Regions from separate parts of the Homo sapiens genome. Here region 1 is linked to region 2. Evidence: fine-mapped expression QTL. A gene starts in region 2. The other region holds a variant in brackets. All regions are shown on one strand. Distances are from middle to middle.

The links. PIP is the estimated chance that this variant, and not a neighbour inherited with it, causes the effect.
Region 1: its variant is fine-mapped to the expression of FAM227B in whole blood (TOPMed, PIP above 0.99). The same link has a PIP of 0.9 or more in fetal neocortex.

The regions. Positions count from the first base shown.
Region 1 is chr15:49,499,336-49,507,335 of GRCh38, forward strand. All of the region lies in intron 11 of FAM227B (family with sequence similarity 227 member B), which reads right to left. Among named protein-coding and RNA genes, the nearest start is that of FGF7, 80 kb to the left of the region's middle. The variant G/C (reference allele first, on the strand shown) is at 3,905.
Region 2 is chr15:49,615,338-49,631,792 of GRCh38, forward strand. FAM227B (family with sequence similarity 227 member B) reads right to left here and starts at 5,481. Exons shown (of 16, transcript NM_152647.3): 1 at 5,363-5,481. It overlaps DTWD1 (DTW motif tRNA-uridine aminocarboxypropyltransferase 1), which reads left to right and starts at 5,711. Exons shown (of 5, transcript NM_001144955.2): 1 at 5,711-5,785; 2 at 9,776-10,094. The coding sequence starts at 9,831. RefSeq lists enhancers at 5,823-5,942, 9,789-10,988.

The sequences.
Region 1 (8,000 bases), 120 kb before region 2:
ATGTATAATTGGAAAAAGATGTGTCTGTATAGTAAAAACTAGAAAACATTGCTGAGAAAAATTAAAGAAGTATTATATAAATATAGGCATATTCTATGTTTGTGAACTGACAAACTCACTTTGTTAAGATACCAATTCTCCCCAAATTGATCAATACAATGTATTTAAAATAAAGATGCCCGAGTATATATTTTAGAAACTGACTAGCAGTTTTTCAAATTTATATGGAAATGACAAGAATCTAGAATAACCAAAATAATTGTGTAAAAGAAGCGCAAACTTGGAGGACTTATAGTACCTAACTTCAAGATACATTATAAAACTACAGTTTTAAAGGTAGCTGGTTATTGGCATCAGTGGAACAGAATACAGAGAACAGACATAAACCAATATGTATGGTCAATTGATTTCCAAGATAATTCGATGAGGAGAGGATAATCTTTTCAACAAATGGTGCTAAAGCAATATGCAAAGAAGTGATTCTTAATGTTTATACATATAATTAAGAAAAATTACTCAAAATGAATTAGAGACCTAAAAGTAAGAGCTACAACTCTGAACTATAAAGCTACATACTATAAAATTTCCATGTGAAATTGGGTTCACAAATATTATTAAATAGAATGCAAAAAGCACAAACTATATTAAAAAATTGATAAATGGGTTTCTTCTAATTATAAACTTTTGTTTTTTAAAAGATGTTATTAAGAAATGAAAGGGCAAGCAACATACTGGGAGAAAATATTTGTAAAATATGTATCTGAAAAAGGACCTGTTTCTAAATACATGAATAACTTTTTTCTAGGCTGCAGTGAATTATGATCATGGCACTGTATTCCAGCCTGGGTGACAGAACAAGATCCTGTCTTTAAAAACGAACTAACTAAATAAATAAGCATAAAATATATAAAGACCTCTTATAACTCAATAAGAAGACAAACAACTCAAATAAAAATGGCCAAGATATTTGAACAGACACTTCAGCAGGCACTCAATAACCTGTGAGAGCAGCTGTGGGGGCAGAACCCCACAAAGCCACAGGGGTGAAGCTGCCCAAGGCCTTTGGTGCCCATCCTTTGCACCAGTGTGCCCTAGATGTGGGACATAAAGTCAAAGGAGGTTATTTTGGAGCTTTAAGATACATGGATGGCAAATAAGCACATGAAAAGAAGCTCATCATGATTGATCATCAGAGAAATTAAAATAAAACCTAGCTAAATACCAGTATATAACTCACGAGAATAGCTAAAATTAAAAAGACCATAACAAGTGTTAGTAAGGAAGTAAATATAACTTGTATACTGGTAGAAATGTAAAATTTCGGATAAGAGATTGACAATTTCTTAAAATGTTATACATACGTGATATAGTTTGGATATCTACCCCCAACCAAATCTCATGTTGAAATGTAATCCCCAATGTTGGATGTGGGGCCTGGTGGGAGGTGGCTGGATCATGGGGGCAGATCCCTCAAGAATGGCTGGGGCCATTCCCTTGGTGGTAAGTGAGCTCTTGCTCTGAGTTCATATGAGGTCTGCTTGTTTAAAATTGTGTGGCACCTCTGCCCCCCTCTTGCTTGATCCTGCTTTTGCCATGTGACATGCCTGCTCTCCCTTCACCTTCTGCCATGATTGTAAGCTTCCTAAGGCCTCTCTAGAAGCTGAGCAGATGCCAGCACCGTGCTTCCTGTAGAGCATCCAGAACCATGAGCCAATTAAACCTCTTTTTCTTGTAAATTACCTGGTCACGGGTATTCTTTTATAGCAACACAAGCATGAACTAATACAGAAAGTTGGTACCAGGAGTAGGGCATTGCTATAAAGATACCTGAAAATGCAGAAGCAGATTTGGAATTGCATAATGGGCAGAGGCTGGAAGAGTGTGGAAGGCTCAGAAGAAGACAGGAAGATGAGGGAAAGTTCAGAACTTCTTGGAAACTAGTTAAATGGTTGTGGTCAAAATGCTGATACTGATATGGGCAGTGAAGCCCAGGCTGATGAGGTCTCAGATGGAAATAACAAACTTATTGGGAACTGGAGCAAAGGTCATCTGTGTTGTGCCTTAGCAAAGAACTTGGCTGCATTGTTTCCCTGCCCTAGGGATCTGTGAAAGCTTGAACTTCAGAGTGATAATTTAGGGTATCTGGTGGAAGAAATTTCTAGGCAACAGGGTATTCAAGATGTAACCCTGGCTGCTTGCAACAGACGACACTCAGATGCAGGAGCAAAGAAATGATAAATGTGGAACTTATATTTAAACAGGAAGCATAACGTAAAAGGTTAGAAAATTGGCAGCCTAGCCATGTGGCAGAGAAAGAAAAGGCTCTTTTGGAAGAATAATTCAAGTAGGCTTTGTAGCAATGACTTGCTAGAGAAATTTGCATAACAAAAGGGAGCCAAGTGCTAATAACCAAGACAATGGGAAAAAGGCCTTGAAGGCATCCCAGAAATCTAAGACACAGGTCCTCTAGTCACAGGCCCTGAGGCCTAGGAAGACTAAATGGTTTTATGGGTCAGGCCCAGGGACCTGCTGTCCTGCACAGTCTTGGGCCACTGCTCTGTGCATCCCAGCTGCTTCAGTTCTAGCTGGGGCTTTAAAAGGTCCAGGTACAGCTTGAGCTGCCACTTTGGAGAATGCAAGCTATAAAACTTGGCAGCTTCCTCATGGTGTTAAGCCTGTAGGTGCACAGAATGCAAGAGTGAAGATCATTTTGCAGCCTCTGCTTAGATTTGAGGATGTATGAAAAAGCCTGGTTGCCCAAGCAGAAGCCTGCTGCAGGGGCAGAGCCCTCATAGATAACTTTTATTACGGCAGTAAAGAGGGAAAATGTAGGATAAGAGCCCCCACACAGAGTACCCACTGGGGCACTGCCTAGTCGAACTGTGAGAAGGGGGCCACTGCCCTCCAGACCCGAGAACGGTAGATCTACTGGCAGCTTGCACCCTGAATCTGAAAAAGCCACAGACACTCAATAACCTGTGAGAGCAGCTGTGGAGGCAGAACCCCACAAAGCCACAGGGGTGAAGCTGCCCAAGGCCTTTGGTGCCCATCCTTTGCACCAGTGTGCCCTAGATGTGGGACATAAAGTCAAAGGAGGTTATTTTGGAGCTTTAAGATTTAATGACTGCTCTGCCAGGTTTGAACTTGCATTGGGCCTTCAGTTCTTTTCTTTTGGCCGATTTCTCCCTTTTGGAATGGCAATGTTTACCCAATGCCTATACTCCCATCGTATTTTGGAAGTAAGTAACTTGTTTTTGACCTTACAGGCTCATAGGCGGAAGAGACTTGCCTTGTTTTAGATGAGACTTTGGACCTCTGAGTTAATGCTGGAATGAGTTAAGATTTTCGGGGACTGTTGGGAAGGCATGATTGTATTTTGCAATGTGAGAAGGACAAGATTTGGGAGGGGTCAGTGGTGAAATGATATAGTTTGGATATTTGTCCCTGTACAAATCTCATGTTGAAATGTAATCCCCAGTGTTGGAGGTGGGGTCTGGTGGGAAGTGGTTGGATCATGAAGGCAGAGCCCTCATGAATGACTTGGGACATCCCCTTGGTGATAAGTAAGCTCTCACTCTGAGTTAACACAAAATCTGGTTGTTTAAAAGTGTGTGGCACCCCGCATTGCCAAGTCAATCCTAAGCCAAAAGAACAAAGCTGGAGGCATCACGTTACCTGACTTCAAACTATACTACAAGGCTACAGTAACCAAAACAGCATGGTCCTGGTACCAAAACAGAGATATAGATCAATGGAACAGAACAGAGCCCTCAGAAATAATGCCACACATCTATAACTATCTGATCTTTGACAAACCTGACAAAAACAAGAAATGGGGGAAGGATTCCCTGTTTAATAAATGGTGCTGGGAAAACTGGCTAGCCATATGTAGAAAGCTGAAACT[G/C]GATCCCTTCCTTACACCTTATAAAAAAATTAATTCAAGATGGATTAAAGACTTAAACGTTAGACCTAAAACTATAAAAACCCTAGAAGAAAACCTAGGCAATATCATTCAGGACATAGGCATGGGCAAGGACTTCATGTCTAAAACACCAAAAGCAATGGCAACAAAAGCCAGAATTGACAATTGAGATCTAATTAAACTAAAGAGCTTCTGCATAGCCAAAGAAACTACCATCACAGTGAACAGGCAACCTACAGAATGGGAGAAAATTTCTGCAATCTACTCATCTGACAAAGGGCTAATATCCAGACTCTACAAAGAACTCAAACAAATTTACAAGAAAAAAACAAACAACCCCATCAAAAAGTGGGCAAAGGATATGAACAGACACTTCGCAAAAGAAGACATTTATGCAGCCAAAAGACACATGAAAAAATGCTCATCATCACTGGCCACCAGAGAAATGCAAATCAAAACCACAATGAGATACCATCTCACACCAGTTAGAATGGTGATCATTAAAAAGTCAGGAAACAACAGGTGCTAGAGAGGATATGGAGAAATAGAAACACGTTTACACTGTTGGTGGGACTGTAAACTAGTTCAACCATTGTGGAAGTCAGTGTGGCGATTCCTCAGGGACCTAGAACTGGAAATACCATTTGACCCAGCCATCCCATTACTGGGTATATACCCAAAGGATTATAAATCATGCTGCTATAAAGACACATGCACACGTATGTTTATTGCGGCACTATTCACAATAGCAAAGACTTGGAGCCAAGCCAAATGTCCAACAATGATAGACTGGATTAAGAAAATGTGGCACATATACACCATGGAATACTATGCAGCCATAAAAAATGATCAGTTCATGTCCTTTGTAGGGACATGGATGAAGACGGAAACCATCATTCTCAGCAAACTATCGCAAGGACAAAAAACCAAACACTGCATGTTCTCACTCATAGGTGGGAATTGAACAATGAGAACACTTGGACACAGGAAGGGGAACATCACACCCCGGGGCCTGTTGTGGGGTGGGGGGAGGGGGGAGGGATAGCATTAGGAGACATACCCAATGTAAATGACGAGTTAATGGGTGCAGCACACCAACATGGCACATGTATACATATGTAACAAACCTGCACGTTGTGCACATGTACCCTAAAACTTAAAGTATAATAAAAAAAAAGAAAAGATCAGATATATATTGTTCATAACTTTGTTACTCAAAGTGTGTGGAACTAGCACCACTCGCGTTCCCTGAAGCCTGCTAGAAATGCAAAATCCCAGGTCCCACCCTAGACCCACTGAACAGAAACTTTTAATAAAATAAAGGTCATTCATGTGCATGTTAAAGTTTAAAAAAAAAAAGTGTGTGGCACCTCCCTTCCACTTTCTCTCACTTGCTGCTTCTTTCACCATGTGATGTGCCTGCTCCCCCTTTGCTTTCTGCCATGACTGTAAACTTCCTGAGGCCTTCCTAGAAGCTGAGCAGATACCAACACCATGCTTTCTGTAAAGCCTGCAGAACCATGAGCCAATTGAGCCTCTTTTTTCCTAAATTACCCAGGTTCAGATATTTATTTATAGCAATGCAAGAATGACCTAATACGTTACATAACCATGCTGCTCTGTCATCCCACTACTAGATGTTTATCAAAGAGAAATAAAATCCTATATCCGAACAAATACTTGTATATAAATGTTCATAGCAGCTGTATTTATAATAGCCAAATACTGAGAACAATACAAATAGCCACCAAAAGATGAATGGATAAACAAATCATATTATATTCCTACTATGGAGGACTACTATTCAGCAATACAAAGGAAGAGATTATTAATACATGTAACAACATGAATGAATCTCAGAATAATTATGTGGAATAAAAAATGTTAGTTGAAAAACAGCATGCACTCTATATAATTTCATTTATGTAAACTTCTAGAAAATTGCATTCTAACCTATAGTGACAAAAATTACATAAATGATTGCCTGTGGGTTGGTGGCAAGAAGGAATTACAAAAAAAGCATAAGGAACTTTTGAGAGAGATAGATGTTTTTTTACCTCGAGTTGTAATGGTTTTACAGATTTATACATACGTCAAAACTCATCAAATTTTACACTTTAAATATATGCAATTTATTGTACACCAATTAGATCTCAAAAAGCTGAAAAAACATGTAATTATTTGAAACAAAAGTCATGACACTATATAATGTGAGGCTATTATTTATGTAGATATATTTGACAATAGCAAAAAAGACACGGGGGTGTATATGTAACTATACTGCTCCAAGGTCCTACATTTTAAGTTAAGTAGGACAATATTAACTTTAGATAGTATTTTGATAATTTAAGAATGCATTTTGCAAGCATTAAAGCAGCCTCAAAAAATACAAAAGTGGTATAGGTAAATAGCCAATAGAGGAATTAAAATAGAATGACAAAAATATTCAATTAACCAAAAGAAGACAGGGAAAACAAAGAACAGATGGGATAAATCTCAAAACAAATAGAAACTAGTAGAAATAAGATTAATCATATCAATAATTACATTAAATGTAAGTGAAGTAACACTTCAAATTAAAGTGAAGAGATTGTCATCCTGAATAAAAAAACAAGACTCAACTACAGATTGTTTACAAAAAGTATATAAGAATATGAACTAGTTATATGTAAAATGATGAGAAAAGATACGATGTGAACCATAAGCATAGGAAAACTGAAGTGTCTATATTAAGATTAAACAAAATGAACTCAAAAAAAGAGAATTATCACAGCTACAAAGGAACATTTTATAATGGTTAAAGGAAAAACCTAATAAAAGTATATTTGCTCAATAATTTAAAAATGGATACAGCAAAAATCAATAACATTAAAGGGAGAAATAGATAATTCTAAAATTATATTTTAATATCCCCTCTGAGTAATTAATAGAACTAAATAAAATATCAATAAAGATATAGAACTAGGGTGAGCAAAATTTTTCTATAAAAAGCAAGTCAGTATTGTAGGATTTTCAGGCCAATGTAGTCTCTGTCACATATTCTTTATTTTGTTTTACGTTTTTGTTTTTTACAACCCTTAAAAATGCAAAAACCATTCTAAGTTCATAGAATGTATAAAAACATGCTACACACCAGATTTAATCCACAGGCTACAGTTAGCTGACTTGATACAGAAGATCTGAATAATACTATTAGCCACCTTGATCTAATTGAGATTTTTTTTAACTGCAGATATACATTCTTCTCAAGTGTACATGGAATGTTCACCAAGACAGACCACATTCTGAACCATAAAACAAGTCTCAACACGTTGCAAAAGATCATACAGAGTATGCCCTCAGACCACAGTAGTTTTTTTTTAATTAGACATCAGTAATTTTAAGATATCTAGAAAGGTCCCAAACATTTGGAAATTAAACAATACTTTTCTAAATAACCCTACTTTGACCTACTAATGGGTCAAAGTAGGAATTACAGTAAATGTTAGAAAATTTTTAATTAAGTGATAAAATACAACATATCTAAATACAACACACTTAAAGCAGTGCTTAGGGAAATTTAATCTTTAATTGCTTATGTGAAAAAAGAAGAAAGAGAATGATTTAAAGAACAAGCAAAATATAAATAATTGGTAGGTAAAGGATATATGGGAGTTGTTAATGCTATTCTTACCACTTTTCTGTTACTTAAAAAGAAAATGGAAAGTTCACAAAATACTCTCAATTTAGTTATTCATATGTGAGGGTGAGAAGTCAAAACAGATAAACAAAATTGGCTCAAGATAGTAGACTATTACTCTTTCTATCAGAAATCCCTAGAAATAGCCCCCCACCCCCCATAACAATATATACGAAGTTTTGGTAAAACACTGAGGATGACAGCAAACAAGAAAATTTCCTGTAACTAATAAAAGATAGAAATCATATTGGATGATATATACTGCGATAAGAATATAGAAAACCACAGTTAAAATAGTGATGCTCTAAATTCAAAATTCTCAGATCTGAAGAAGAATAATTAACTAATTAAATAATTCTAGAATCAGATTAACTAAAGAATAACTTCCCAAAGAGTAGG
Region 2 (16,455 bases):
AGTCAGATAGTTTGGCTCTGTATCTCCACTCAAATCTCATGTTGAACTGTTGGAATCCCCAGTGTTGGAGGTGGGGCCTGGTGGGAGGTGATTGGATCATGGGGGTGGTTTCTAATGATTTTGCAACATCCCCCTAGTGCTGTTTTGTGATAGACTTCTCATGAGATCTGGTTGTTTAAAAGTGTGTAGCACCTCCCCCTTCACCCTTTTCCTCCTGCTCCAGCCATGTAGGACGCATCTGCTTCCCCTTCACCTTCTGCCATGATTGTAAGTTTCCTGAGGCCTCCCCAGCCATGCTTCCTGTACAGCCTGTGGAACTGTGAGTCAATTAAACTTCTTTTCTTTAAAATTACCCAGTCTCTGGTAGTTCTTTATAGCAATGTGAGAACGGACTAACGCAGCAGGGGAGGAAGGGCTGGAAAATATATTCTGCTCATGAAGCTGGAGGTTCTACTACGTCACATGACAAACGACATGCATATAACAAGAAATGGACAAGGGAAGGCTAATAATATAAGCTATTATAATGTTTATAAGAAAGATTGGCCTGAATTTTTCTATCTTATAATGTGAAGATTTGGAATTAAGGCTATTATGGTCTCAAAAAAAATGAGTTGGGAAATGCCTCTATTTTTTTCTATTATCTGAAAGAATTTAAAATCTGAAAGATCAGTACTATTTCTTCCTTTCTTCCTTAAATGTTTGGTGGACACTGCTAGTTATGTTCCCTGAACCTGAACCTGAAATTATGGGGGAGTTTTAAATTAAGGATACTGTTATGGACCTAATCATGCCCCCACCCCAAATTCATATGTTCAAGCCCTAACACTTATAACAAGATGTGACTTTATTTGCAGATGGAGCCTTTGAGGAGACAATTAAGGTTAAAAGAGACTAAAAGAGTGGGGCTCTAATATGATTGGTGTCATTATGAGAACAGACACCAGAGAGCTTGCTTGCTTATACTCTCTCTCCATATACACACAGATATTTTATCTGTGAAAATATCTAGAACTATGAAATAATAAACTTTGTGTTGTTTTAAGCCACTTTGCTTGTTGGCTGTTTGTTACAGCAGCAATAAGAAACTAATATGAGGAGAAAGAGTGATTTTTTTTTTTAGCATTTTGCAGATGTGAAAAATGCCACACACTTAACTGATGCTCTGTCTATATAAGAGAAGAGGCTTTGTAAGGACATGGTGAGAAGGCAGTGGTCTACAAGCCAGGAAGAGAGGCCTCACTAGAAACTCACACTGATGGCACCTTGGTCTTGGACTTCTGGCCTTTAAAACTGTGAGAAAATAAACTACTGTTGTTTAAGTCATCTACTCTGTGGTATTCTATTACAGCATCCTAGGTAGACTAATACAGATATAAGCTATCAAAATTAATATAGGATCATTCAGCTATTCTATTACTTCTTAATTTTGGTAAATTATCTTTCAAGAAAAATTGAAATGTCAAGTATTTTGATATAAATATTTATTCTTAATATCCTCCTATTATCTTTGCAATCTGTAGTGTCTGTGGTGATGTTTCATTTTTCATTTCTGAAATTTGTACTTTTCTTTATCTTGGTCAGTCTATCTAAAGGCTTATCAATTTTATTAATCTTTGCAAAGAACCAGTTTTGGCCTTGTTGCTTTTCTTTAGTGCACATTTGTTTTTAATTTCATTGATTTATTCTTATCTTTATTAGTCCCTTTTCTTCTTTAAATGTTTGAGAAACTTCCAATGATAAACCTTGCTCTACTATGAAGCTGAATGCTTGACAATTCCTGTTGAGACACCATGAGGCTTTCTATCACCATTTTAATCCTTGTATTTCAAAATGGATAGAAAGCTAAAGATTATTATTTATGGACTAATTGTGAAATAAAAAATATTTTTAAAAAATGGAAATCCAAACAAGTGACTAAAAATAAAATCTAGGCATATACAGACAATGTGGGGAACAGAAGGAAACTTCAAAAAAGTCTTTAAGACTCATAGAGAGCTATAATAAGATAATGCATCCCTGAAACCAAAACTGCATGTTATAAATGAATACAGAATAAGAAAAAATGCAAAGTACAAATATGATATAAATTATTCAACAACAGTCTAGTGAAAAATAGCTGAAGAAATCTTCTAGAAACTAGAACAAAAATGTTAAAGTAAACAAGAATCAGAGGATAAAAAAACAATAATTTAGAGGATTATGCCAGAAAATGACTTTCAATCTGTAAATTTAAATATAAACAGAGCATCAATTAAATGTGTGGCATTTTTCAGATTTGCAAGATACTAAAAAAAAATTCATCTCATATTAGTTTCTTATTGCTGCTGTAACAAACAGCTAACAAAGTGGCTTAAAAAATCACAAAGTTTATTATTTCACAGGTCTAGAGGTCGGGAATCTGAAATGGGTCTGCAGGGCTATGCTCCTTTCATGTTTTGTGTGTGTGTGTGTGTGTGTGTGTGTGTGACAGAGTTTCACTCTTGTCGCCCAGCATAGTAAATTTACTTGTGTAACAAAAAAAACACAAAATATCAATGGCTTAATACACATAATTTTTTCTCCCAGAAGATCTTTTTGTGAGAAAAGGGGCTTCTAGCAGTCACCTGCTATCCTTTGCTCAGAGCTCCTCCCTCTATCTTCAAAGCCAGCAGTGTAGAGTCTTCTCCCCTCTCTTGACATCTTGTCTTCCTCTCATAAGAACTCTTTGATTATGTCCAGCCACCCAGACAATCCAGGGTAATTTAGCCCATCTCCTTAATCACATATGCAGTTCCTTTTGCCATATAAAATATCAACAGGTTCTGGAGGTAAGGATATAGACATCTTTGGGGGCCATTATTCTATCTACTACACTCCTATTTACCTTTTTCCAAGAAGGTATTAGAGAATGTAGTTCATTTTTAAAAAGGGATTAAACAAAGAAAAAGGAAACAAGGGATCTAACACACAGGAGAGCAGTATTATGTTGGAGAAACCAGCAATCCTAAATAAACTAAAGGCTGTAACGCTGTAGGAAGAGTATCTGTAAGGAAAAAAAATCTACTGGATTAACTGATGTATTTCACTGTGATGCTTTAGCAGTTTGCCAGTGTTTGAGAACAGATAAATAATACATTAAAAATGGCAGTTAAGAGAAAGGAAAGTAAAAAGTTGTATTAAAAGTTAATGCGATCTTAGTATACTATGTGCCTTGGGGTTGAATGACATTTACCTAGACAGTAGTGATAACACTAAATGTTGATTTAGCCAAAGCCTATGATATCACTATTGACAGGTGAAGGGACAAGAAGAGTGTATGAGGTAGAGAGGGAATGTTCACACACTTGGAGGTGGTGTTGTTACAAAAGACCTTTATCACTGCCTTCCACAGGAGAAAGTCAGTGGGTAATGTCTGAAATTGGAAAATCAAGAAACTGCAATGTAAGTATATTTAGACATGGGGGTAACAGATGAAATATTTAAAAGACTTGAATTTTCCTTTGGTGAGAAGAATTGAGAATAGAGTAGAAGGGTTGGGTACTACAGGGTTTTCTTTAACCTAGAATGTGGCAAACTGTTAGTGCTCACCAATATGTGTGTGTTTCTCTACATTTCTCAGGATCCCCGGCAGTTAAAGTGGGGGCCTTGGGACTAAATTCTGGCCAACAGAATGTGGCCAAATTGATACATGTCATTTTTAGAGTTAACCTTGGGTAATTTGCCATACTTTCTTTCTTGTCAAACAAGCTAGTCCTAGAAGGCAGCAGAACCATTAAAAATAAAAACATCTGGCCTTGAATTTAACATTTCGTCTGCCTAGAAATAGCCACAATGGATCTTTTGTGAGGAAAAAAAAAAGTGTATTAAACCACCGATATTTTGGGGTTTTCTGTTACAGAAGTAAATTCACTATGCTGGTTTTAAAACATGGACAAGAAATCTTTGCCAATCCTTTGAGAAGAGGGATCTATGTCTCCTTTCCTAAAATGGAACAGGACTTTGACACATTTGTAAGCAAAAGAAAGTGGGGGAAGTAGCACCGCGTTACTTTTTGAGGCAAGGTCAGAAAAGGTCAGGCAATTTTTGCCTTGTTCATTGCAACACTCCCTTTGGAGCTCTGAGTTTAAGCTAAGAAGTCTGACTACCTTGCTGCCATACTGTGAGGAAACCCCGGCCATATAGTTACAGAAGCTCTGCTAGCATGCCCACTCTAGTCTTTCTAATTGAGTTACCAAAGAAAAGCTGATGACTATGCCCTATTGACAACACCACCTGTGAACATAATAAAATGGTTGTTTTAAGCCACCATATTTTGGAGTAATTTATTACATACGATAGCAACCCAATGCTCAATCTAACAAGTAGTATTATTTGCTTTTTAATCTGTGCAATTTAACTACTTTGATAAAATTTAGAGTTAAACTAAAAAGGAAAATGGTTGTGAATTCTTCTTGGCTTATAGACTTTGCTATTCTACTTTCCCTACCCAGAAAATTCACCTTTCTCCCTAAATCACTGGCTTTCAAACTTTTTAAGGTTTGAAATACAGTAAGAAATACATTTTACAAACAAGCCCTAGTGCACACATACACGCATATATACAATTAAAAGCTCCATAAAGCAGTACTTTACTAACTAACACTAAATTTACTTACATGCGCTGATATTTCCAATCTATATTGTTTCTTTTTTTTAAGTTTAAAGAGATTTCCTTGCTTACAAATGGGTCAAGACCTCCACTAATGGGTCCCACACAATCCCCTTTCCAGTTGAAAAACACTGTCCTAAACCTAAATCATTCTTCAAGGCCTTACCCAAGTCCGAAAAAGAAGCCTTTATTGACCACTCCATTCTCAGCTTTCTTGAAATTCCTGTAATTTATTAAATTCCATTTTTTATCTCAGTAGTAAGAATATTGCATTTTCTGTACTTGAATTTAACATGCTTTACTTGATATCGTGAGCACTTCTAGGGCATTGTAATGTCCTTTATCTACCACTTGATAAATTCAGAGTAGTCAATAAAACATTGCTCAACATTTGACCATTGTGTTTTAAAATCTTAGTTGTTAGAGTGCACTTCCGTTTGCGCATTGTTTGGGGAGAGGCACGGACAAATGTTCTAATAACTTATCCACATATTATACTTCAAAGTGGAAAAACACAAAGTACTCTTAACTCTATATGCGTGTTTTTATGCAAACTAAATCATTAAGATACAAATGATTTTTCTAATAGCTTTCATTACCACACAGCACACGAAATAATGATATTGATATAGCCACGAAAGACTAATGTAACCAAGTTCTCACAATCAAAATATCTTTGAGGTGGGCAAAATGCAAACTTTTCTCTGGGATCAACATTTCTTCACAACTCACTGCAACTACGCCTTGACAGTATGTTTCGAGAACCGCTTCCCAATTTTGTTGTCCCAGCAAGAATCGGGAGGAAACTGGGTGAAAGGCTGCGAGGCTTGAGGCGGGTCCCGGACGAACGCGGCCCTGCCCCTCGCCGGAGCCTCTCGGGAGAAGTGCGACACCGCCGCTGATTGAGAGGCTGAGGCGGAACTTCCCGTCTAACCCCCCCCCCGCTGTCGTCCCAGCCTGTTGCTTAAGCCGCGCGGTGTGCGGTGTGCGCGGCCCCTGCCTTAGCAACGACGCTAGTAACTGCCTGGCTCCTCCCTCTGGTGTCTCCCGGAAAGCGCTCCGTCTGGTCCGTGCGCGATCACGGCCCGGCGCGTGGCTCGGGCTCGGGCGGAGCTGGAGACGTGTGGAGCTGTTCGAGGACTCGCGGGTGTGCAGGTCTGAGTACCACTCCGATCCCTGGTGGAGGTCCCCGCGCCTCTCTGGAGACCAGTGGTCTGGCCCCAGAGGTGCGGCCGCGGGAAGTGGACATTCTTTGTCAGGACCCTAGCGGAGGTCGCGCTGGGTGTCGCCTGTGAGGGGGATCCTCGGTTTCTGCGCGGTCTCTTGCTTTTTTTAGGATCTTGCGGGCCCTTTGGGAAAAAGGTTTCCAAATTTTTCCTCAAAAAAAAAATTATTTTTCCTACCAATGATTTTCGGTGCATTCCGCCCCAACGAAAAGTATGTCCTGGCAAAGTCAGTTCCCTAGGAACCCCATACTTTATTTTATTTTATTTTTAGTATTTGGAGTGGTTTGTGGGGGTTTGGTTATCACGGAAGGGGAAGCGTAGTACAGACGTAGAATTAGTGATGCCATGCAGTGTATTTAAAATATTGAGGTTGTGGTTACATAATAAGCAAAAGAGCCTGTTTCTTACGTCTAAATTATTTATTGGGAATGTAGGACAAATAAGGAAGTATATTAACATTTTCAGTCGCCAGGCCCACAAAGTTGGATGGTAAAATCAATACTGTAGATCGCAGCATGTAAGGACTAACCCAGTGCACCATGAAAACGAAGGCAAGACAGTTTGTTACCATATGGCGGGTGGTGTGGGAGAGGCCATTGATCCTATATGAAAAAGGGTACTACTACCTTGGATTATGAAAAATGAATGTTGGACCTGTAGGTCCTATGTGACCAAGTTCTTAAAAACACTCTAAAGAAAATTGGAAGTGGTTTTTTTCTAATACTGAATTGGTCCACAATATAGGACAGGGGAGTCTGTATAGTGTTCCATTGGGAGGTGAGTCAGCTTACAATAATGGAAGAGGTAGAAGCTTTTTGTTATTATTTTGGAGAAAAAAAAATTGCCAGCCTGCCACTTGTGCTAGGCTGCAGACGGCCCATAAAGGTAGTTTGTCAGATACTTCAGTAGTGAGATGCTTACTGGATGTGTTTTGCAGAATGGTTTTGATTTAGTTAACAAGTGTTTGTTGAGTTCCTGCTGTTGCATAAGAATCAGGAATAGGTGAGATCAGGGAAGGAATCTGCTCTTACAGAGTTGAATGCTGGAGGGGATAGATTCACTAAAGTACCTCCACAATAAATGCATTTTTCCATGTCAAATATGTGGAACTAATAATAAGTACTCAAAGAGGTTTAAGACATTGCTGTGGCCCATCTATGAGTTAATAAGGAACTGAATTAGAATCCTGACTTTGAGAGTGAAGATAGAGGATTATATACAAGGTAGATGCAACTTGGTGAGTATAATTAATTTGGGGTGGAAATTGGGTAGAAGGAGGAATAAAAAATTAATGTATTTTTAGCCTTAAGTTCCAGAATGATGGACGCACCATCAAGGTGTTAAAATTGTTAGTTCCTTAGGAACAGTCTTTATGTTTTCTAAGTCTTTTTAGCCCCCATGACTCAAATTGTACTTCCTTGCACATATTTGATGTTAACAAGTATGTTTTAAAAATTTTAAATAACCCCATTTGCAATAAAATCATTTGCAATGATTTTCTCACAGTCGAGGCAGGCTGTTGGCTCGGTTAGGACAGATGCCCTGATCATGTAGTTTCAGAGACCACTGGAGGGAGCTGCCCATGATTTACAATTGCTGGCCTCTTCTACGTGGCCACCTCAGCCATAAGTGAGAGTATATAGGTGAACTAAGAGGTGGAGCCATAAACATTTCTCTTTTACTGTCTTACAGGTATTTGTGGTGGTTGATTTTTCTAGAGGAAGGTTATTTATATAAAGCTTCACTAATATCCATTTAGTTATGTGGATAGCAGGTCCATGAACTGCAAAGTGATATTTCTGAGGTATCTCTAGGAGGAATGCACTTTCAGTGCCCTAGGATAACTCCAAAAACTCACCAGTAGTTTTCTGTTAAATGTCAGGCAACCACAGTAACTTTCATGACATCCACAGGAACTACATTTTTCAGTCCCACTATGCCTGGGCCTTTGAGTGGTACATGCATTCCCACTAAATAGCTACTCCATTACCCAGGGAAATGAAGTCAGGTTGAGCTACTCCAATCAAATTTCATTTTTTAGGATGAATCCCATCATCTGAATAACTCAGGACTATTAAAGCCTCAAAATGTTTCTCTGTAAGAACCTCAGGCAACACCAGGACAAACCCAAAGAGAGTTTAGGTGAAACTTAGCTTCGTATGTGCAGCAAAGAGACGCCAACAGAGCATTTGCAACTCTCATTTCTGGGGACTATTAGGATCTCTTCCCAAGCTTTTTTTTTTTCTCTGTTTTAGAGATGGGATCTCACTTTGTTGTCCAGACTGTTCTCAAACTCTTGTGCTCAAGTAATCCTCCCACCTTAACCTCCCAAATGCTAGTATTATAGGCATGAGCCACCATGCGTGGCCCTTCCCAAGCTTGGAACTTCCTTACCTGGGTCGTAGATGGACTCTAGGAGATCTCCAAACCTCCTGAAATTGTGTGCAAAATATTGTGTCTGTATATGCATTTTCTAGGGATGCGGTTTAATATTTTCATGTGATTCCTAAAAGAATCTGAGGCTCAAGAAAAGAGGGCATCTTAATATCCTGCACTTTCAGTCATTGAGGGCATGATCACAAAGATCAAAGCCATTTTTAGGCAGGTGAGTTGGAGTGGCAGTCAGAAGTAGGTAAGATTTTCTATTTGTGAGGCAGGAACAAGGGATTGGACCATTGTTCTTAAATACTGCTTTCTTACCCAAAATGCAAATCTGTGCGTAATCAGTACACAGCAAAAATATTTACTGTATTTTGTTTTTCCCCTTGGGTACATTTGGCAAGTGCCTTTTTCTACTATAACCGGCGTTTTTGTATCTCTTTATTTGTATCTCAAACTCACTGGGACTTACAATCTTAAAAAAAAAAAGAAAAAGAAAAATTCATTTGATGAGTAATTAAATTAGTGCCACTAACTTCTTCTCAGCAAATTATGTTGTATTTTATGTTTCTCTGGACTTTTTGTTCACTTTCTGTTTGGGAGACCACAAAATGTTTCCTGCTGGAGTCACAGCATTTCTCTTGTCCCTGTTTCTACTTAAAGTGCCTGGAGCTTCGTAGTTAAACCACAATGCCAGAAGGCTTTATAATAAGAGAATTATTTTACAGCTGTGGAATGCATATCGAATCAATAGGGCACCAGTGTTGTTTCTCCCTTGAAAGATATCTTCCTTACAGGGTATACAGATAGCAATTTTGGCAGCCATCACCCTTCTTTGAAGAAAATATTAAGTGGGAAAGTTATTTTACCATTTTTCTCTAGTACTAAAGAATCTGAATGATGTATGTTTTTAAAAAACATAAATTCTTAGAGTAAGTGGACATTAATGTTACTCTGTAAATTTTTAAAATTTATAGGATAATATATTTTACCTTATGGGATATTTTACAAATTGTAATGAGTAGTAGATGCCTCTTATTTTTTATTGGATATGAAGTTTTATATGTATATGCACACATGTACACAGACACACTCACACATATGTAGTGTGTGTTTAAGTTGGAGAGGGTTATATCTTTTAGAACATAACCAACTAAATTTTGCCAATTCCACTAGAATCTTCTATTTTTCATTAATGTCAATTCAAAGTCAGAGCCAACAGGGTTGAATATATCCCTGTCTGATGCTAACGTGAAACCATTGCATTCCTAATATCTGGAAAACAAAACTGCCATCTCTGGAACAAAAAAGGGTTCTTGAAAAATGGATTCTCAGTACCTGAACTTTATATTTGAAATAACTTTCAGTTTATTGCTTTTAATCTTATGTTTTAAAGTGTGCCAATTTGGTGGTTTAAAACATGTTTAATAAGTACTAAAACAGCACACAATTGTGACTTAAATTGAGTAATTTTCTTTGTAGACTGAGTAAAATGTTTTCTGTTTTTATTTTTCCTTCTCTTGATACTTTTTTTTTACAGTGCACCTATGATATGTGTTTTAGAAATAGCCGTTAAACTTTGGTTTGAATGAAGAATGTCTCTCAATCCACCTATATTTCTCAAACGAAGTGAAGAAAATAGTTCAAAATTTGTGGAAACAAAACAGTCACAAACTACTTCCATAGCTTCAGAAGATCCCCTTCAAAACTTATGTTTAGCATCTCAAGAAGTTCTTCAAAAAGCTCAGCAAAGTGGGAGATCAAAATGTCTCAAATGTGGTGGTTCCAGAATGTTCTACTGCTATACATGTTATGTTCCAGTTGAAAATGTACCTATTGAACAGATTCCACTTGTGAAGGTTAGTAAGAAATTTAATTGTTTGAAAGTATGAAAATAGATTTTTTAAAAACATCTCATGTATACCTACTCTAATTGATAAACTTAATAAATAATGTTATTATTGTTAGAAACAAGTGCTTGTTGCTGCAAAGAAAAACTAGCACTTAGACAGAAAATTTCTCAGCAGGGCACATTTACTTCTGCAGAAGGGTGCTGCGCCTGATCGCAAGAGCACACCGAACAAAGGAAGGAAGGGATTTTTAACCCTAATGCAGTTCCTGTCCCTGTGTCCTTCCCTTATTGGCTAGGGTTGGACCACACAATCAAAACTGATTCCAGTTGGCTAAGACTTAAAATTTTCCAAATAGGGTAAATGCACGATTTGTAAAAGGAGGGGTTAGGAGTGGTCTGTCCACTATAGTATAAGGCATGTCTGGACATGTTTGGCCATGTCAGGGCACAACAAGAGTGGGAGGGTTGTTTGCAGGCTGGAAACGAGAGTACAAGGAGCTTGGGCTTCTGAACAAAGAATAAGAACATCACACAATTAAACATTTTGAAGAGGAATTTATCATTCCTAGCATGAAAACCAAGTGTATTTATGGAAAATTTAGCCCTACAGACCACTAAACCTCTTTGTTTTTCTTGTCTCTGGGTCTGAAATGGTGTTTTTAATGAAACCAATTAATTTTTCATTAATGATTTTAATTTATTTACAACATGGGAAAAAATGTGTGATATAAACTTATGAATACTAAAAAAAAAGTTTATAGACACCCTGAAGGAGCTCCAAACACTCATGTCTTTGGACTGCTCCTTGAGAAAATACTATTCTAGTAGAATTAGAGTTGATTTTCACCTAAGATTTTGTGACTTATCCTATACATGGGGATGGAGCAGATTTCATTGACCAAAATGAAAATAAAGTAAAATTTAAAAACTAAGACCAATTCCCTGGGCTGTGTTATCATTAGAGTGATTTTAAGCCCGATTTGATTGCTTACCTTTATACTTTTTGGGCTCACCAACACTACTTTTGTATAGGTAAAAGGTCTGTAGAACGTCATGTCTACATAATCAAAGAATTTATTATATATATGTTAACTTGTCTAACATTATCCCAAACTTTAGGAATAAATCAATTAATGTATAAAATTTGACTGTGTAAGACTTTAGAGAGACTAAATTCTACACATGGACTCATTAGAACTTGCCAGTAAAAAAAAAATAAGTTGTAGCTATATTTTAAAATTTGTTTTGATGATTTTAAAGTTCATTTGAATTTGAAGTAAGAAGAGTACTTTGACACTCATATTTTATTTGAATTTCAGTTTAGCCTATATCATCTTGGCCAGTCCATGGTCTCCTCAGCATCTAAAATCACATGTATAGGCTAATGGAAAGTTTACTAGCCAAGAATAAGTAAGTGTGGAATTTAATATGATCTTCACAGTTTGCTCCGAAAAAACAAGAACTTGAGGGTAATAATTATTTTCAAGTTTCCCATTATCTTACAGGAATGTTACATTTTGAAGTATGGTTTTTGAAGTATACGTAGAATTATTCTATTTTACATTTCTCTCATAGCCATGTAAAGAAGGGATTCCATTAAAAGTTTTATCCTAAGGTGTATTGTATTAAAAAATGGATTGCATATTATAATAATAATAATCAGTAATATAGTTACAGGGCTGATATTTTCATAGATATTTAATAATAGAGGGTATTTTCCAAATCAGTGGTCTAATATACACCATTTAATAGAAATGACTCAAGACATTAGTGTTTGATCATCTCTCAATGGTCTGGACTGTGCAGAGTTTTCTAAAGTGTTTATATTTTAATGGCCTTGTATAAAATTTGATACTTTAATATACATTAATGGTAATAACAGCTCTACAAAATGTCCTTTCCAATTTTTACTTTATTTTTATTTTAACAAATCATTCAGCATTTGCTTTTAGATAGCCTACTTGGGAAAGGAGGATGACAATATAATGAGTAATTCCCTCCCAATTTTAGTCTAGGGAATGCATTCATAAATATAGTCATATGTCTCCTAATGACAGGGATACATCCTGAGAAATGTGTCCTGAGAAATGAGTCGTTAGGCAAATTCACTGTTGTGCAAACATAATAGAATGTACTTACACAACCTTCATAGTATAGCCTACTATACACCTGGGCAATACCTATTGCTCCTAGCCTACAAAATCTGTACAGCATGTTATTGTACTGCATACTGTACACAGTTGTACACACAATGGTATTAGTGTATCTAAACAAATATAAGCATAGAAAAGTACAGTAGAAGTACAGTATAAAAATAGTAATCCTTTATGGGCACTTAGCATGAATGGAATTTGCAGGACTGGAAGTTTTTCTTGGTGAGTCAGTGGTGACTTGTGAGTGAATGTGAAGGCCTGTGATGTTACTGTACACTACTGTAGTTTTTATAAACACTGTATACTTAGGGTACACTACATTTATGAAAAATATTTTTCTTCAATAATAAATTAGCTTACTGTGACTTTTTTACTTTATAAACTTTTTAAAAAACTTGTGATAACACTTACATTTAAACACAAACACATTGCACAGCTGAACAAAAATATTTCTTTATGCTCTTATTCTGTAACCTTATTCCTATTTTTATTATTTATTTATTTTTACTTTTTAAACTTTTTTTGTTGAAAACCAAGACACAAACACGTTACCCTAGGCTTACACAGTGTCAGGATCATCAGTATCACTGTCTTCTTCCACCTCCACATCTTGTCCCACTGGAAGCTCTTCAGGGGTAATGTATGGAGCTGTCATCTCCTATGATAGCAATGCCTTCTTCTGGAATACCTCCTTAAGGACCTGCCTGAGGCTATTTTACAGTTAACATTTCTTTTTTCTAATTAGGATGAGTGTACTCTAAAACTAAAAAAATTAAGTGTAGTATAGCAAATATATAAACCAGTAACAGATTTATATTATCATTATTAAACATTATTGTATAGCATGCTTTTATATGACTGGCAGTGCAGTAAGTTTGTTTACATCAGCATCATCACAAGCATATAAGTACTGCACTGTGGTGCAATGTTACAATGGTTACACTTCGCTAGGCCATAGGCATTTAGAGCCTAGAATTTAAAAGGCTCTCTTGGGGAAAGTTGATAATCCCATGGGAAAATGCTTAGGTCTCCTTGTCAGTAGCATTTTGATAAACTTGGGCAGAAGGATTTGTGGTAAGTCTCTTTTATAAAACATAAGTGTTCGAGAGCAGATTGATATTCTTTACTTGTTTGAAAACAGAATGTCTCTACTCAGACTGCCCTCTGGTCAACACTATTTTTTTTTTTTAAACACAGTTAAGCTTTAATGTCCATACGAAGCCTCAGAGCAAATGTTTTTGTAGCTTGTAAAAAAGCAAATTTTTTTTCTTTCTTTTTTAATTATACTTTAAGTTCTTGGATACATGTGCAGAACTTGCAGGTTTGTTACATTGATACACATGTGCCCTGGTAGTTTGCTGCACCCATCATCTACATTAGGTATTGCTCCTAATGCTATCCCTCCCCTAGCTCCCCACCCCCAGACGGGCTCCAGTGTGTGATGTTCCCCTCCCTGTGTCCATGTGTTCTCCTTGTTCAACTCCCACTTATGAGTGAGAACATGCGTTGTTTGGTTTTCTGTTCCTGTGTGGTCAACACTATTTTGTTACTCTGTACTCTTGTCATTATTTAAGAAATAATCTTCTTTTAACATGTGTGAACTAGAACACAAACATGGATTTCCATGATTTGATCTGTTTCTGTGCTTTGGTTTTATGATGTGAGAGATCTCACGCTCATGGAAAACTAACAATACCTTGGATTGTGTACAGGTTTTGCATAATTATGCTTGCAGACTTTAGTTCATAAAGCTTTTTCTTTTATCATATAATTAAAAAAATAGGCTAGGCACATGATTTATAAAATTTGTCAATAACACTCCTGTGTTCTTGATATAAATGATACCCTCCAAGATAGCTAGCTGATCAGAAATATTGATAACTTTTGGAATTTTCAGCTTTACTCATCAGCCATATAAGAAGTTCACATTTATGATCTGCTTTCTTTTTCTTTTCTTGTCATGATCTGCTTTTTTTTCTTTTCTTACTTCCTACCTTCCCTGGGCTAAGATAATACTGATGTGGTGCTCAGAGACCCTAGGGAGAGGGAAGGTAGTTTCAACTGAGACCGAGCGTCATGAGGAAACTCTGATGTAGTGTTCAGCCAGAAGTAGACTGATGTAAAATCATTTGTGAACTGCCTACTTAAATGGTAAATTTTCCATAACTAGAAGTTGGTTTGATGATTAGAAGCAATTGGGCCTAACTTATAAATGATCATTGGGCCTAACTTATAAATGATTGCTAGGCCTAAGCGGGGAGGGTAGGAGATACAGCATTTGAAACCCTAATTGAAAACTATTTGAGGAATTCATTTGTAGGCCAAGGTCCTCCAGGGGTGTATTATTTATACTGTTCTGTCCCCAACATAATTGTCCAGGAAGAAAAAAATTTGAAATTGAAATTATTTAGTAGCTGCTCCATTCAAAAATAGTTTTGGAACTAATGACACACACACACACACAACATGGAAGAACCTCAAAATAATTATTCTTAGCTAAAGTCAAATGAAGAGGGTATATTGTATGATTTCATTTATATAAAATTCTAGAAAGTACAAACTATAGTGGCAGTGGATTACTGATTGCCTGAGGAGGGCAATTGTTGATGGTGAGAGGAGAAGGAAGAAGGGCTTGAGAAGACTTTTGATAGTGGCAAATCATTATTTTGACTGTAGCAGTGGATTCAAGAATTTAACATATGTTAAAACTTATTAGATTGTACACTTTAAATATGTACAGTTTAAGACATAAGAAAAATAGTTTTGTCCTCCAGGGTAAAATAGTGTGCCCAGGGTAAATTCCTAGAATCCTACTTATTTAGCATGGGATGGGAACTTGGAGATGGTGGGAACTACCAAATAAAACAAAAGGTCATTTAAAAGCTGAAGTCAAGAACACATCTCCAGAGGGTTTCTTATATATAGTAAGGGAGATATGATTTGGCATTTTTTTCATAATCATGGCTGAATGCAGTACTTGTATAAGCATTACAAAGAGAGCTAAACCAAAAAAGCCAAAGTGAAATAAGAAAAATATAATTTACAAAATCCAAGAGAATATTATTTTTGCATAGAGACATGTTACAGACAACATCTATAACAAATAATGAAACTTCAAGGGAAATACTTAGGCAACAGGGGTCCCCAATCCCCAGACCACAGACCAGTACCGGTCCTAAGGAACCAGGCCGCACACCAAGAGGTGAGCTGCTGGAGAGCAAGCGAAGCTTCCGTCTGTATTTACAGCCGCTCCCCATCACTCGCATTACCACCTGAGCTCTGCCTCCTGTCAGATCAGCGGCAGCATTAGATTCTCATAGGAGCATGAACCCTATTGTGAACTGTGCATACAAGGGACCTAGATTGCATGCTCCTTAGGAGAATCCAATGCCTGAAGATCTGTCACTGTCTCCCATGTCCTAGATGGGACCATCAAGTTGCAGGAAAACCAGCTCAGGGATCCTGCTGATTTTACATTATGGTGAGTTGTATAATTATTTCATTATATATTATAATGTAATAATAATAGAAATAAAGTGCACAATAAGTGTAATGTGCTTGAATCATCCCCAAACCCTCTCCCCAAACCCTGGTCTGTGGAAAAATTGTCTTCCACGAAACCAGTCCTTCTTGGTGCCAGAAAGATTGGGGAGTAGTTAGGCAAGATGATTTTGAAGACAGTTTTGTGATATAAAGATTACACCTCTTAGGTCTATTGTTACTATTTTTTAATTGATAATTATTTAATTTGTGCTATTGAAAATGTGATGCCGAAAATCATGATGTTTCCTGCAAAGGATAACAGTTTTGACTTGAAAGTATGTCTAAGGAACAGAATTTCAACTTGAATTTTAGATCTGAAGCTTTTTGCCCAAACTTACATTTCTTTTTAAAATAGCGTAAGAGGCCAGGTGTGGTGGCTCACTGGTAATCTCAGCACTTTGGGAGGCTGAGGCAGGCAGATCGCTTGAGGTCAGGAGTTCAAGACCAACCTGGCCAACATGGTGAAAACCTGTCTCTACTAAAAAAATACAACAATTAGCTGGGCATGGTGGCAGGTGCCTGTAATGCCAGCTACTTGGGAGGCTGGGGCAGAATTGCTTAACCCAGGAGACGGAGGTTGCAGTGAGCCGAGATCACACCACTGCACTGCAGCCTGGGTGGCAGAGTGAGAGTCCATCTCAAGATAAATAAATAAAAATAAAATAAAATGGC